Homo sapiens: one gene and its partner. The protein of the gene in region 1 interacts with the protein of each later gene in a pairwise test. Each region holds a gene or a part of one and is shown in the gene's direction. Other genes may lie near its edges.

Region 1 (2,928 bases):
GGGGAGCGGGGGCAGCCACCGCAGGAATCCACTTCCAACTCACTGTCAGATTTTCCAAGTTGGCCACTCCTTCTCACTCCTCTCCAAGTTTGAGAATGGAAGCGGGTGGCAGGTTTTGGAAGCATTTGTTCTGTCCCTTTCTTCCCAGGCTATTCATTTCAAAGAGCTGGGTGTCGCTCACTTCTGGTGGCTCCGAGGAACACCTCAGCCAAGGCCCTTTCCTTCCCATGCTCAGGACGCCCTTCCGCCTTGCCCATTCCTTGTTAGTTTGCAGGGCACCTTTTATCCTAGGAAGAACTTGTCCCATCAGAAAGAGACTGGACTGGCTAGCAGCTGGAGCTCTGGGGTCAGGTTCAGGGGCTTCAAATTCAGGATCATCGCTGACTCAGCATGTGGCTTATGCTACTCCCTTTTTCTCTTTAAGGGTCAGTTTTCCCATCTGTAAAATGAGGTGGATGATGACACCTTTTGGAGAAAACTAAAAGAAATCATGCACAAAGCACCACTGTATTTTTAAATTTTCCTTCCCTGTCTTTGCTCAAGTTGTCCTTCCGTCTGGAATACCCTTTCCCCTCTCCCCTGGCTAACTCCTAGTTATGTTCCTGGAAGGTACCTCCCACCTCTCTTACTGGGCTCCGTGTCCCTCTGCTGGCTCCCCAGTAATACCTCCCGCTTGCTTCTGCAGTAATACGGATTCGTGGCATCTCTAGAGTTTATTGCCTATTTCCTTCTGAGACCATGGACCAATTCCTTCATCATCACTATATCCCCAAATCCTAGCACTGAGCCCAGCATGAGTATATTGGATCACTGAATAAGTGAAAAGGATTGGGGTTCTACATGGATGAGACGTGGGGTTCTTTTTTATGTGAGGCATAGGAAGGCATGTCGGCCGGACATGGTGGCTCACGCCTGTAATCCCAGCACTTTGGGAGGCCGAGGCGAGTGGATCACCTGAGGTTAGTAGTTTGAGACCAGCCTGGCCAACATGGCGAAATCCTGTCTCTACTACGAATACAAAAAAATTAGCCGGAAGTGGTGGCAGGTGCCTGTAATCCCAGCTACTTGGGAGGCTGAGACAGGAGAATTGCTAGAACGCTGGGGGCGGAGGTTGCAGTGAGCTGAGATCGCGCCATTGCACTCCAGAGCAACACTCCGTCCAAAAAAAAAAAAAAAAAAGCATGTCAAGTTCTAATTGTGACATTCTTTGGTTCAAAGATCTCAGCACCTATCTGCTGCTTATGGACAAAAATCCAAAATTCTGGCCGGGCTCAGTGGCTCATGCCTGTAATTTCAGCACTTTGGGAAGCCAAGGTTGGCGGATCACCTGAGGTCAGGAGTTCGAGACCAGGGGGGCCAACGTGGTGAAACCCCATCTCTACTAAAAATATACAAATTAGCTAGGAGTGACAGTGCACGCCTGTAGTCCCAGGCTATACGGGGGCTGAGGCAGGAGAATTGCTTGAACCCAGGAGGTGGAGGCTGCAGTGAGCCGAGGTCACACCACTGCACTCCAGCCCGGGCAACAGTGAGACTCCATCTCAAAAAAAGAAAAAAAGAAAAAAAGGCCAGGCGCGTGGCTCACACCTGTAATCCTAGCACTTTGTGAAGCTAAGGCAGGCAGATTGCCTGAGCTCAGGAGTTCAAGACCAGACTGGGCAACACCGTGAAACCCATCTCTACTGAAATACAAAAAGTTAGCCAGGGGTGGTGGCATGTGCCTGTAGTCCCAGCTACTTGGGAGGCTGAGGCAGGAGAATTGCTTGAACTTGGGAGGCGGAGGTTGCAGTGAGATCGCCCCACTGCACTCCAGCCTGGGTGACAGAGCGAGACTCCGTCTCCAGAAAAAAAAAAAAAAAGTCCAAAATTATTTGTCTGATATGCAAGTCTATCCATCATCTGGCCTCGCCCACCCACCCAGCCTGTATCTTCTGTAGCTATTCTCTGAACTTTTAAGTTCTGGCACAAACTTGGTGCCTGCTTTATGTTCTCCAACCTCCGTTCCTAGGCATCAGATGCTCCGTCCACTTACCACATCTTTCAGTCTCATCCATCCCTCAGGAACTCACATCAAGGCAACCTTTGTCAGGAAGCTTCTCTCCATCCTTCCCTCATGTCTTCCTCCCAGCTGTGAAGTCTTACAGAAGTTTTTCTGTTCCTCTCCATGGAAGTTATCACAGCAGACCTTGCTGTGTTGAGTTGTATTAGCTTCCAAGGCCTCCATCCTAGATAGAGAGGAGGAAGGGCCATTCTCTAAACCATATATGCTGTATGTCCCAGTATGGAAACACAGTAGAGGCTGGTTGGACACCTGCTAGATCTAGCCAGGATTAGGTGTGCAGTGGACATCAAGTGACATCTGGAGAAGGTGGGGTGGGGGTGGGAGATGATCCTCAGGCCAACCAAAGGCAAGGGAAGGTCAGGATGACCTCAAGACCCGGGTGGGCAGCAAGATCGTCTTGAGCCACAGCAAAGTCAGGTGCAACCTGCATTCCTTCCAGGGTTCACCATTCACTATCCACGTGGCCTCAGGTATGTTGGTGACCCTCGCTGGCGTAAGTTTCCTTATCTGTAAAGTGACACTTATCCCTCCAGGATGGTTGAGATGATGAAATCTCATAGTGACAATCACAGGTTTTTTGGGTTTTGTTTTTTAGATGGAGTCTCACTCCGTCACCCAGGCTGCACTACAGTGGTGCAACCTTGGCTCACTGCAACCTCCACCTCCTGGGTTCAAGCAATTCTCCTGCCTCAGCCTGTGGAGTAGCTGGGATTACAGGCGCCCGCCACCACGCCTAGCTAATTTTTGTATTTTTAGTAGAGACGGGGTTTCACCATGTTAGCCAGGCCAGTCTCAAACTCTTGACCTCAAGTGATCCACCCTCCCTGACGTCCCAAAGTGCTGGGATTACAGTTATGAGCCACCGC
Region 2 (3,006 bases), on another chromosome or scaffold:
ATCCACCCACCACACCCACCCATCCACCCAGCTACCCATTTATCCACCCATCTATCCATGCATCCATCTCTCCATCCATCCATTTATCCATCCACCCATCTATCCATCCATCCAGCCAGCCAGTCACCCACCCATCTGCTCACCCACCTATCTACCTATCCATTTATCCATCCATCCATCCATCCATCCATCCATCCATCCATCCATCCACCCATTCATTCATGCATCCATCCATGCATCTGCTCATGCATTCATCCATCCATCCACCCATGCATCCGCCCATGCATCCATCCAGCCACCCATGCACCCATGCATCCATCCATCCATCCATCTTTCCATTAATCTGTGCATCCATCCACCCATCCATCCAATATTTACTCAGCATCTCCCCAGTGCCAGACCCTGTGCTAGATGCTGGGCACACACAGTCCCGGATCTTAAGGCTGCACTGTCCCCAGTACCATCACTGGAATTTAATCATTCTTCTCCAGTTTCCCAAGGACCTGTCTTGGGGAAGAGGACAGTTTTGGGTTAAAATATCCATCTCTTCACACCCCTGCAAGAAGTGGCTGACTTTCCTAGAACCTCTTTGTATCCAACCTTCCTGCCTCTCACCACACTCCTCCCGTCCCTAACCCCAATTCCTCCTTCTGAGTGGATTCACTCTCATTTTATAGGTGCTTCCCAGGGGCTGACTGTACCAAGGGTTGCCCCAGGAATCATCTCTGCACAGGTACTCGGGAGGAGAGGGGAGTCTGTGCCCTGGGAAGACTGAAGGGCTCATGGGCTCTTCCATTTCTGGCCTGAGCCAGGATCTCCGGCTCTCCAGGGCCCCACAGTGTTCATGTCAAGAAAGTACTAACCCAAAGTCTACTATGTGAATGGTGCCCTCTGGAGTTGTGCAGGATACTACTTGGGTGGCAGGCAGCTCTGGGGTCCCGGCGTTCTCTACAGGAGGCATCACTGGAAGCTAAGGTTCTTCTCTTGCTTTTTTTTTTTAGCAGTCCCCTGGCAGTGTGCCCACAGCAGCCCTGCCTGCCCTGGAACCACTGGGTCCCTCCTGCTATCAGCTGTGCTGGGCAACAGCACCAGAAAGGTGTCTGAGTGACACCCCACCTAAAGCCTGTCTCAAGCCCTGCTGGGGTAAGAATTCAGGCCAGGCCTCAGTCCTGCAGGATGTAGGGAGGGTCGACTGACTCAACCTCCAGGAGGGCATGGATCTCCATTGGGGGTCATCAAAGGAATCTCAATACAGCTTTCCTCATTCTTTGCATGGTCCACAAAATTACGGAGACTAGTAACCCCTGAGTCTATGGTATCACTGACAGCCATAGCAGGTAAAGGATGTGAGACTGGGATTCAAGTGTGTATATGCAGGGTGGGAAACTGATGTCTCAGCCTCTCTCCCATAGTGACTTTGAGAGGTGGGGTGGGAGCAATAACCCCAAGCTCTCTCTATTTGTCCCCACAGGCCACTTGCCCCCACAGCCGAATTCCCTGGACTCAGGACTGCTTTGCCTTCCTTGCCCTTCCTCCCACTGTCACCTGGCCAGTCTTAGTGGCTCTCAGGCCCTGCTCTGGCCTGGCTGCCCACTACTGTATGGCTTGGAATGAGGCAGGAGTGGGAAGGAGATGGCATAGAGAAGATCTAATACCATCCTGCCCATTGTCCTTACCGTCCTGCCCATACAGACTGTGGCTCCTTCCTCCTTCCTGTGATTGCTCCCTCCTGTGTGGACGTTGCCTGGCCCTGCCTCGATGCCTCTCTGGCGCATCACCTGATTGGAGGGGCTGGTAAAGCAACACCCACCCACTTCTCACACTAGCCTTAAGAGGCCTCCACTCAGCAGTAATAAAAGCTGTTTTTATTAGCAGTAGTTCTGTTGTCCATCATGTTTTCCCTATGAGCACCCCTATGCCCACTCTAATATTCAACAATTATAGACAATTTGCCCTATCATTTATTTACATCTATGTATCTACCATCTAATCTATGCATGTATGTAGGCAATACATGTATCTAAACAATGTATTTGTCAATGCATCAATTTACCTACTCTATGTATGCATCTATATGTGTATTATGTATGCGTGCATGCGTGCGCGCACACACACACACACACACACACACTGACATTATATCATGGCATTTTATTCCTAAATCTTCCAGCATGCATCCCCAAAAAACAAGAAACTTGTCTTACATAATCACAATAATATATCCACATCTAAGAAAATTTACTGTAACTTCTTAATCTAAGAAAATTATGTATTTTTGTCATATGTATTTTGTCATATGTATTTTGTATTTGCATATGTATTTTGTATTTGCATATGTATTTTTGTCATAGCAGCAAACAGAGTGAAATGCCATTTTTCATATTCTGCTTTCCATTTATATGTGCTTTATTTATACATGCTCCAGGGGCATGTTTGCTTGGTCCTTTTGGCAGTAAGTTCCAAACCTTCTCAATTCTGTCCCTTCAAATAAAGGTCTAGGCCCTTCCTGAGAAGTCTCAGGATGTGGAGAAAGGGAGGAATATGGGGGAAAGGCGGTGAAGAATCGGATATTCAGCAAGGAGGATAGGCTCATCCTTCCAAATTCTTTCCCTTTTGAAAGTCAGGCGATGGATAATGATGGTGCAATGCTGGTCGGCGGGCGGGGAGGTGGGGGCATTGTTTACTCCTATCTGGGATAGGTACTGATCCAGAAGACGTCATTCAAGAGGCCTCTTCATTATCAAATACTGTGCTGTGCTGAACTGTGCTGTTAAATAAGTAGCCACCAACCACATGTGACTATTTAAATGTAATTCACATTAAAAAAAAAAGAAGAATGCAGTTCTTCACTCACATTAGCCACATTTCAAATGCTCAGTAGTTACATGTGGCTTGTAAGGACTATCGAGCATTTCAGTCATTGCAGAAAGTTCTATGGGACTGCACAGCTCTAGAATGAAATTTCAAGGGTAATAGAGCACATCTTGCCCCTGCCTTGCCTTCTAT

The links.
Region 2: the proteins of CABP5 (region 1) and PAX4 interact in a two-hybrid assay, tested with the Homo sapiens proteins (one large-scale study listed by BioGRID).

Annotation. Positions count from the first base shown.
Region 1 is NC_000019.10:48,031,266-48,034,193, reverse strand, and holds part of CABP5 (calcium-binding protein 5), read left to right. Parts: intron 1-2,928. UniProt on the Homo sapiens protein: Inhibits calcium-dependent inactivation of L-type calcium channel and shifts voltage dependence of activation to more depolarized membrane potentials. Involved in the transmission of light signals.
Region 2 is NC_000007.14:127,609,672-127,612,677, reverse strand, and holds the end of PAX4 (paired box protein Pax-4), read left to right. Parts: intron 1-677; coding exon 678-733; intron 734-1,001; coding exon 1,002-1,143; intron 1,144-1,471; coding exon 1,472-1,614; 3' UTR 1,615-1,692; coding exon of another isoform or gene 1,693-1,826; 3' UTR 1,827-2,386; downstream 2,387-3,006.